Regions from separate parts of the Homo sapiens genome. Here region 2 is linked to region 1. A link means that fine-mapping ties the variant in region 1 to the expression of a gene that starts in the linked region. Tissue or cell type: whole blood. Region 1 holds a variant in brackets; the other region holds the start of a gene. All regions are shown on one strand. Distances are between the middles of the regions.

Region 1 (5,148 bases):
GAATGTTTGAAAAGCCTATGCTGTAAGATAAATATTTCACATATTTCTCCCGGCTGGGTGTGGTGGCTCATGCCTGTAATCCTAGCACTTTGGGAGGCTAAGGCGGGTGGGTCACTCGAGCCCAGGAATTCGAGACTAGCCTGGGAAACATGGCAAAACCCTGTCTACACGCGCGCGCACACACACACACACACACACACACACACACACACACACACACACAAAAGCCGGGCCTGGTGGCATGTGCCTGTAGTCCCAGCTACATAGGAGGCTGAGGTGGGAGGATCACTTGAACCTGGGAGGTTGCAGTGAGCTGAGATTGCACCACTGCACTCCAGCCTGGGTGACAGAGTGAGACCCCATCTCACAAAAAAAAAAAGAAGTATTTCTTCCATATAATTTTAATAGAGTAAAATTCCATTAAATGGTAGAGAATAGTAAGCTTAACTAACACCTAGAATCTTCAACTTTGTTTGAGAAAATTGGGTGATTCATTTAAAATTAACCTGGAATCTAATCTTATTTCCTAGTTGTCAGTCGCTATTTCAGTTCTTACATAAAATGTGAAGGTAACCAAAGAGTCTAGTTAGTTCATCTAAAAAAAGAAGTGTTATCATATTCCTATTCAGTGCTAATTTTTTCACTGAGATCCTATGATATAACGTTTTGTAATCCATGCTATTTTTTTTAGTCCCACAGGATCACATGTTGAATGGTGTAAACAGCTTATAGCTGCTACAATTTCTAGTCAGATTTCAGGTTCAGTGACATCAGAAAATGTGTCCAGAGATTACAAGGTAAGCAACATTGAGTGTTTAATTCATTTTCAGTATGCTAAGTAGCCAAGAAGCTTTGCAGTTTTAATTCAAGTGAGCTGTTGGCCTTTTGATGCAACATGGCCATTTGCTCGAGAATAAGGATGAAAGGTTCTCTGTTGTTAGATCTGAAATGTAGAAGAGAAATTTTACCAGTATCCAGTACATGTAGTCATAGTTTTGTAATTGAAAGGAGAAGCTGTCTTTAGATGACAATGATTCTTTTAAAAATCAAGTTCCATTTTATAATAATAAATGCATATAGCTTCTTTGTTAGTATTGTGAGTTTCAGGAAATATCTTGATGTACAATACTTCCCTAACTTCACAATTTTTTAATTTATGTATTATCTGTGAGTATTCAGCATTAACATGTGATACTAGAATGTATAAAAACCCTTCCAGAATCTCAAAAGAGTATTGTATGGGCAGCCTCATTTTTCAGTCCTTACTGAAGTGAAAATCTCTTTTTGTTCATTTTAAAAGTTAGATTCCCTGCTTATTCTAAATTTAAGTGATAAGCTCCTTGTCAGCAGAGACTAGGGCAGTTTTACCACTGGCTTCCCAGGCACAATCCTGGAGCATAACAGTTGCTCAATAAATATTGAATCAATTAACAAATCAAAAAAATCGCTTGTTCCATCTTTGTTAAGGCTAAAGACTAACTTTGTTTTAATGTCAATAAACTATTAATAGGTATATTAAATGAAATCACATTTATATTTCAGTACTGATGTTTGCCTAAGTTGAGGTTTCTGTTTATTAGTGGTCATTTTTCCTGCTAGTAAGAGATGATTGATTTTTCACAAGTGTGTGTAAAATGCATTTGGTATCCCAGACTACCATTAGTTAATAGTCTCTCAATATCATGGTCCTTGCCAGACATCAAATCTTACAAATATCAAGAATTACAGTAAAGATCCTAATTAATTCTTAATAGGTACTCCTTGTTTAGGAGCTTTATCTTCAGTTCCTCTTTAGAGCTCATAGGGTAATAACAAGTGCAGAAACAGGCTCAGGAGGCCAATTAATTGAGATTTGGCTATGGTGCTGTCTCTTGCCTCATCCAAACTGGCAGATGCTGTTGATTATGCCTACCAAAGGAAGGCATAGCTGTGGATTAGCAGAAATTGGATAATCTGCCCAGCTAGAAGAGTGACAGTGTATTTCTTAATCATTTTTCCTGCTATGTGGTGTTCATGTTTGCCCATAAAAGAGCAGCTGGGGCTCCTGGACCTTAAAACCTGGTCGGGCAAACACACTGTCTCCAGGTGGGAGAAGCATTTGCTGCATCACTGATGCGTGAATGGCTGGTCACTGAGCAGCTGCGGATCGCATCAGTTCCAGTTGCCCTATTGCCTGCACCTTAGCTGAGAAACTGCCCGCTGAGTAGAGAGACTTAAGAACCCATTTTAGCAGAGAATAGCTCTCACACTTCGGGGTGATTTTCTTTATGGACAATTATGAGTTAACTGTAATGTTTTCATTAAGGTTGAATAGTTGTTAGTGTTGTGTGTGTCCTATAAAAGATTGAATGTCGACTGTGTGCATAGCTTTCTAACATTGCATGAATAGATCAGACTGAATCTGTACTTTAACATGAAGCAACTAAGTTTTTTCAATCTCAGTCTATTTACAAATTTTGTGTAGCTGAATTAGCTCATGTTGGAATGGTTGAACAGATGGTATTCAGAAAAAATAAGGCTT[T/G]CTTTCTTTTGGAAATTAAATTTTAAGTTCCTACATCAGATCATAGCTAAAGTCTTTGATGAATTATTGTAAGGGGGCATGTTTTATAATTGTCTTTGTTATATTTGCCCTGCAGCCAAATCTGAAAAGTTGGTGTTAAATTTATAACTCAGGGGTTGTTACACTTTCTTCAAGGAGAGTTTTTTTTTTTACATAATAAATACATAAAATATTTCTAAACCACAAGGATAATTGTACATGTTCCCTATAAAGTAGTTCTTAAAATCAGGGTAACCAAAATGGGCCTTTGGGACCCCTCTGGCATGGGAGCTATTGCATGGGGTTGACCCTGAAGAGCCAGATAAAGTTCCTTGAGGATTTAAGTTGCAGTCATCAGCTGATATTTGAAATTATCTGTTGTGTAAATGTCTTATTTGAAATACACACTTAATTTGGGGGCTAATTTATTATAGATTAAACTCAACATCAGTAATTAAATGGGAGCAGATGTTTATGTGGAGCAGAATGCTTGGCATCTTATTTGAAATGCTGATTGTCTTCTGAGTTGTAACAGGCTGTCGAGAATGGTTCTATGTCATCATCATCATCATCATCATCAACCCTCTAACACATACAGGCTCTGGGGTTTTGTAATGCTTTTTGACATGTCATCCATTTAAGCCTTAAAACAACCTAGTGAATCTGGGTGTGGTGGTCTGTAGTCTCAGCTACTTGGAAGGCTAAGATGGGAGGATCACTTGAGTCCAGGAGTTCAAGGCTGCAGTGTGCTGTGGTCACACTTGTGAAAAGCCAATGCACTCTAGCCTAGACAACATAGAGAGATCTTGCTTCTTTAAAAAAGTCCATTGAGGTAGCTATTACTACAATCATCATTTAATGGATGAGGAAACCGAGGCCTAGAGAGATGAAATGACTTGCTTAGGGTCATACAGTTAGACTTGGGATTTGAACTCAAGTCATCCTATTGAAAAGCTAGAGTGATTTTAAGATTTTGTCCCACCCCCATTCCCATCCACTGCTTTTCGATCTTTTTTTTTCTTCTTTTTCTTCTTCTTCTTTCTTTCTTTTTTTTTTTTTTATAGAGATGGGGTCTTACTACGTTTCCCAGGCTGGTCTTGAACTCCTGGGCTCGAGCGATCCTCCCATCTCGGCCTCCCAAAATGCTGGGATTAGAGGTGTGAGCCACCATACCCAGCCTCATCCACTGTTTTTCAAAATGTGACCCTTGGGTCTTCCCAAGACAGCATTCTCTGGAGCACCTGTAAAAATGCAGCTTCCCGGGCTCCATCCCAGATTTACTGAATCAGAGTGTCTGAGGGAGGGAAACAAGTGTCTCATATATTTCTTATGCATGATAAAATCTGAAAACCTAGGCTTCCTGAGTTTCTGTCTGTTGAAATTGGTGATGGGACCCTGCATTTCTGGTATATTACTAAGAATCTGAATAATTAGCAACTCAGATATTGGAGAATAATTATTTTATTATTTACTCATATCATAAATTGTCAGTCAGCCCAGGGTCAGCTCATCTAAAGTACAGTAAGAATATCGCTGGTATCACGTGACATGAGTTTAGATGGTATGTCCATGGACGTATTTTAGTAGCTATGTAATTATTTTCTTGTGTATTAGAAAAATCAGCACATCAGGCTTGTGATTTAGTAGATGTTATGGCTTAGAGCAGGCAAAGTATTAAAAAGGAATGGATTTTAAATCAATATAAAGATAAATACAAAATTAGTATGGGCAGTTGGCAGATACAGCAAGCCAAACTTGTTGAGGTGGTATGTGAAATGGCAAGTTTGGCAAGCATTGTCCCAGCTGAAAGAGTAGATAGCTATTATACTGAATTGTGTGGCAGCTAAATTAATAAATGCCTGATTTAATACCGAGTCATCCTGAAGATTGGCCTGTTAATTAAGACTATTACACAAAATGTAATAAAATATTTGTTTTGCTTGTCCCCCCTCCACTACCAACTCAATTGCTTTCATTTTTACTAGGCTAACAAATGGTAAAAAATTTCTCTTGAATTTGCCAGAAATTTTAAGAACAAAATTTGAATGTAATCTTCTGTAGATTAGATGAAATAATACAGTTACAAATGGAAACATTTTTAGGAACTATTAGTAGAAGTGACATCATTGATCACAGCTTCCATTGTTTGGAAAGTAGGACTAGGTTATGAAAAGAGAACATGATGGAGTAGTACAAACAATATTGGTTAGCTTGTGACCTTGTATAGTCTCTGAGGCTCAGTTTCCTTTTCTGGAAGGATAAAGGGGCTTGGATTAGATTATTCACCTCTAAATGCCTTTCTTGCTAGAACATTATTCAATTGTGTTCAAAAGAATTTGATCTGGGCCAGCTTTATGAAAATTAGGACACTATAGTTTTAATGTGATCATCTTCCTTCCTCTTGCTTCATCATTATCATCAGCTCTTCTCTGTTCTCCTTCCCTCACCCACACACACACAGTAGCTATATCTCTTCTCTAAACATTCTGAAGAAAAATGAGAAAATGGAGATGGCCTTATACTAAGTTTAATCATTGGATGGGATAGTACAGTAATTACATTTGGAGGGAAGTCGAAGGCAGAGTATAGGAAAGACTTCATTATGCTTG
Region 2 (5,148 bases), 130 kb before region 1:
ACCATGTTGGCCAGGTTGGTTTCGAACTCCTGACCTCAAGTGATCCGCCCGCCTCGGCCTCCCAAGGTGCTGGGATCACAGGCCTGAGCCACCGCGCCCAGCCCATAGTGTACAACCTTTACAGTTTTCAAAGTGCTTCCTCATCTGTTGCCTCATTCGATCTCTGCACCTACACCGTGAGACAGGCACGGCAGGGGTTACTCTCTCCATTTCACAGGCCAAAGGCTAATCTTCTCTACTGGCCCTTTCTGGTTGAATTGCATCTTTCTAGAGGTGGGGCTGGGCTGGGGCTGGACCCTGGAAAAATCTTCAGGAATTACCTCCTTAGGATGAGACCATCCCTGCTCTGCACCTTCCCCACCTCCTAACCCCCAGCTCCTCCCAGCTCCATCGAAAAGCTTTGGCCTCATCTTGGGACACTTAACCAGGCCTATTATATGCAAGGTATCCCAGGCAGCTGCTGCCCTCCCTCCACCCATCCCCATTTTCCTCTATCCCTCTGCCCTAAGATTCACAGATACCAGGAATCCAGAGTTATTCAGCAGCCCACCAGGGAGCCTCTCTAGCATGCAAATTTACTGAGCGTGCTTTGAAATTCAGCACAAAAGTGAATGAGATTCAAAGGAGTTCATAGTCTGGGGAGGGGAGTTGGCAGAGCAGACGTGTAAGCAAATGATGACATCAGTACAACAAGAAGGGCTGGGTGGGGGAGACTTCTAATTGTGCGGGGGCCCAGGAGCAGCTGCTATTCTGCTGTCTTTCCAGGAGTTTGGCAAATCCAGGAGAGAGGACCAAGTGGAAAGGGCTGGAGGAAAGAAAAAACCCAGTGCATCAAGTTCCCTGGAACTAGGCCAGAGCTTGGGGTGAAGAGCAAAAAGAGGCACACTGGGAGAAGTGGCTAAAGAGTGGGTTGGGTTGGATTCTGGATGGCTTTGTTACTCTTCTAAGAAGTCTAGACTCTTCAATAAAGCATATATATATGCATATATAAATGATATATGAATATATGTGTATATGTGTGTGACTATGTAGAAACACACGTACACATATACACTGGTATCAGGTAAAATGCTGTTTTTAGATGCTGGAGAACTAACACATACAAGAGAAAAAAAACAGGTCATGATAAAGTCATCCTATTTACTCGAACTGCTCGCGTATAAGTATTATGCAGTACAAAGAATATTATGCTCATTTTTCTATGTGCCAGGTTGTCTTTTCTTTTTTTAATTTTTTTGACACGCAGTCTCGCTTTGTCACACAGGCTGGAGTGCAGTGGTGCCATCTCAGCTCACTGCAACCTCTCCCTCCCGGGTTCAAGCGATTCTCTTGCCTCAGCTTCCCGAGCAGCTGGTATTACAGACACCTGCCACCACGCCTGGATAATTTTTGTATTTTTAGTAGAGACGAGGTTTCACCATGTCGTCCAGGCTGGTCTCGAACTCCTGACCTCAGGTGATCCGCCTGCGTTGGCCTCCCAAAGTGCTAGGATTACAGGCGTGAGCCACCGCGCCCGGCCCAGATTGTTTGTTTTATTTGATTACACAATGAATTCTCTTCTTGAAGTTTGCCTTTCTTCTCTTTTTCCTGTCCCTTTCTTTTTACTGTATCAATAGTTGTCTGACCCAAACCTCAACAAGTAGAAGGAATTTTGGACTGAAATGTTTCCGTTCACTAAGTCTCAATTGCGTTCTTGGAAAGGTGCTGGCACAGCTGAGGGACACCCCAGCTGTTAGTTGAGTTTGTGAATTGCAGATCCTGCCCCAGAGTCAGTGAAATTTCTTTTTCCCTTATACTATCTCAACTTTACGCAGCCAACCCTGTGTACCCAATAATAGCTCAATTTAGTGGCATCCGCTAAAGTCTTGTATAGAGAAGTTTTCCCTCTGGATTTCCCCTTTACTGAAGAAAAATGGGGAGACCCAGACAAGGGTCCCGGGACTACGCTTCCCAGCCGCCTCCGCCCGGCGCCCAGTCCAACTTCCCTTACAGGGATGGCCCCTGGCATCTTGGCCCCGCCCATCCCCAGCACCATATTGCGAACTACAATTCCCAGCTGCCTCCATGCGTCGGACCCTTCAAAATGGGCTTCCCAGCAGCCTCTCGGGCGAAGAGCCCCGCCCTTCGGAGCTGCTCCCCAGGTCGACCCGGCGCACTCTTCCTGCCCCCTGCCCCGTCACGTGATGCAGTCCCGCCAACCGGCACGGGGAGGCGGGCAGCGGGCGGTGGCCGGGGGCGGGCAGGCCGTGGGGGGCGGACCCCAGAGGGGGCGGAGCAGGGCCCGGCAGCCGAGCAGCCTGGCAACGGCGGTGGCGCCCGGAGCCCGAGGTGGGTGCGCGCTCACGGCTGGCCTGGCTCGGAGCCGGGCACTGCGGGGACCCGTGGTGAGGGGATCGGGAGGAGGAAGTTGGGACTCCTTGGGCCAGCGGGTCGCGCGGGGCCTTGCCGCACCGTCAGGGTTGGGTGGGGGTTTCGTCCAAGCGCCGTCGCTGTCCCCGCGGGGCAGGGCTGAGGCCAGGGAGCAGCAGGCAGGTACCTCCGGCTTCCTCCCGTTCTCCCCGCCCAAGGTGGCCGGCCGGCGGCGGGCGAAGGTCGGGACGGGGGTAGGGGTTGGCTGGCCGTGGAGCTGGGGGCGGACGTCTCAGCCACTGCCTGGACTTTGCTTCCCCGTCCCGGGGCGGTGAGTGGGCCGGGCGTCCGCCCTGCCTCCCCGGCGACGCTCCGCGGCTGGTCCTCGCCTTGGCCCTCCGCACGGAGCGGGCGTCCGTCGCATCCCCGGTGGGCCCTGCGGAGCGGCCGCAGCCCGGCACTGGCCGCGAAGCCTCGATGGCCGCTCTCGGCCAGTGTTTCTGTGTCATACACGAGAGGTTTATCTGCTTTTGCAACAGTTGAGGGAAGATCTTAGAGGGAACGGTTAGTTCCCTGATACGCAGTCGGAAGTATGTACAGGCACGAGCAAGCGCCCGTGGCCGGGTTGCCTCCCTTAACTGTCTTTTGCTGCGCTCAGGAAGTGAAAACTAATTTTAGTATTTGCCTAAGCAAGTAAGAAGTGAATCTGCTGCAAAAATTATATTAGAGCTTTATAGACGCACGCATCGTTTGAGGCGAAGTGGGTTGCGACTGGTTTTGAAACAGATACACCAGATCTTCACAAGAATAAAATTATAGCATTTTAGAATTGACTGGCATCCTGAAGTTTACATTGTTCATTTGTTTCCTGGATGGGGGAACTGAGGCCCAGAGAGGGTAACTAATATGTCCCGGGCTTCAGGGCAACTTAATGGCAAAGCTAATATCACAAGCCAGCTCTTTGGGGGTATCTTGGTGTCTGTCTAGTCTGGATTCTTTTTACCACAGCTCAGTATTATTCCTTGTGAAATAAGCACCTTAGAGTCTTGAGACTGAGCCAGCAATTTTGCTAGACTGCAAACCATTTTGAATTTCCTTCAAAATCGGTTTACCAACCAAATAAGACAATCAGGCCTGTTACTTTGCAGACACGTTTGCCTTCATCCAACATATATATTGGGCACGATCATGTATTCACCAGATTTGATTCTGAATGGCTTTTGGCTGCTTCACAAAATCAAATCTACTTTTCAGAGATTCCACACCATGGGGGAGATTTGAACCAGTGGTGCTGCCTGCAGCACCAGTGTATAGTACCCTCCCGGGTGCTTGAGGGTGGATAACATTCACGGGGGGCTTGTAGATTCTAGTGTAGTTAGTAAATGATTGGTCTCTTTAACTTAAAGTTCTAACTACATTTATTAAGTTGTCGATGGTTTCATTCATTCATCAAACACAAGAATGCCAACGGTGGGCACTGGGAAGACAGCAAAGAGCCCCACTGCTGAGGTCCCTGCCTTATAGAGTTTATATGTGGGGAGGCACACAATAAAAAAATAAACAATGATATATTTTCTGGCAGAGATGAGCGCTATGAGAAAAAATAGAGCTCTGAAACCTTACAATGACAGTGAAACAGGCTGGCATGATTGAGAATGACTTGGGCATTACTTTGAATTTCTAGTTTTAGATTGCCAGCTGCTGCTCCAGTAAAGGAAATAAATCCAAAAGTAAATCTCTGAATCAAAGAGATTTTTTGGAGTCATCATTTCTCCAATGAGTGTCTTTTAGATGGTAAGCTCATCCCAGCCTCATTTTTACTCACATTTCCCCCCACCCCGACATGCAAACAGTAAGTGATTTCAAATACCTAGAGAGGTATTTTTCAAATCCTTTGCTGTTTTCATAGTTAGATAGCTGACTGTAGCTACAGAAAGCTCTGCTGAGGTCAATATTGGTTGTTGATTTCATGCCGGTGTCTGCTGGACTCTCAGGCTACCTTGCACAAGGGTTTCTCTTCCTGTGCAATGGTTTGTACTGTGAACCTCTTATCTGAAATGATCATCAGTCCTTGTGTGGTTTGTAAAGAAACTAGTTCATTTTGAAATAGCTCAAGAGAAAAGAAGCACTCATTCTTAGGAACAAGAGTGCTCGCTAATAAAATGGCATTAATGAGAGTTGACTGTAAAAGTTCATCTGTTTAATACCTTCTAAGTTCTCTCATATTCTGTATGTTCAATGGCTTCAAAGCAAAATTTTAAACTTTTACAGGTCTGAAAAATAATTAAAGTTACAAAAAATACTTTAATATTTTTTGTTCCAAAATGAGAGGCAGATTAACAAAATGTAGTTACTTAGAAACCACTGAAAACACATGGTTCTTGCTCTTATTGAGGGCTCCAAAATAAAGAGAAAAGTGGAGACTCTCAACGATTAATAGGTGACATTTTAAAGGGGTAACCAGAGGATTTCAAAGGCTGGAGTTTCTCATTTCTAAAGTTTATTCGATTTTGTAACAGAATAATAGATTGTTTTCATTATTCTTTAGTAATTTTCCTTTCCTGTTTTCGACCTCTTTGAAGTTCTGCTTTCATTATTTTCTAGTTTTCTAGTTCTTTATTTCCTTTTTGGCAGATGTGGGGGATAGGGACCGTCATTTGCCTAGAAGATTTTGACTCTGGATTGGGCAGCCTGCCCCAATTTGAATCCTGGACCTAATATTATCTGTGTGACTTTAGGCAAGGTACTTAACTCTGTGCTTTAGTTTCCTTATCTGTCAAATGAGAATAATAATAGTAC

The links. PIP is the estimated chance that this variant, and not a neighbour inherited with it, causes the effect.
Region 2: it holds the start of MTM1, and the variant in region 1 is fine-mapped to the expression of MTM1 in whole blood (TOPMed, PIP above 0.99).

Annotation. Positions count from the first base shown.
Region 1 is chrX:150,698,504-150,703,651 of GRCh38, forward strand. MTMR1 (myotubularin related protein 1) reads left to right here. Exons shown (of 16, transcript NM_001306144.3): 2 at 692-797. Among named protein-coding and RNA genes, the nearest start is that of MTMR1, 7.7 kb to the left of the region's middle. The variant T/G (reference allele first, on the strand shown) is at 2,522.
Region 2 is chrX:150,566,335-150,571,482 of GRCh38, forward strand. MTM1 (myotubularin 1) reads left to right here and starts at 2,287. Exons shown (of 15, transcript NM_000252.3): 1 at 2,287-2,328. RefSeq lists an enhancer at 1-804 and a silencer at 2,089-2,768.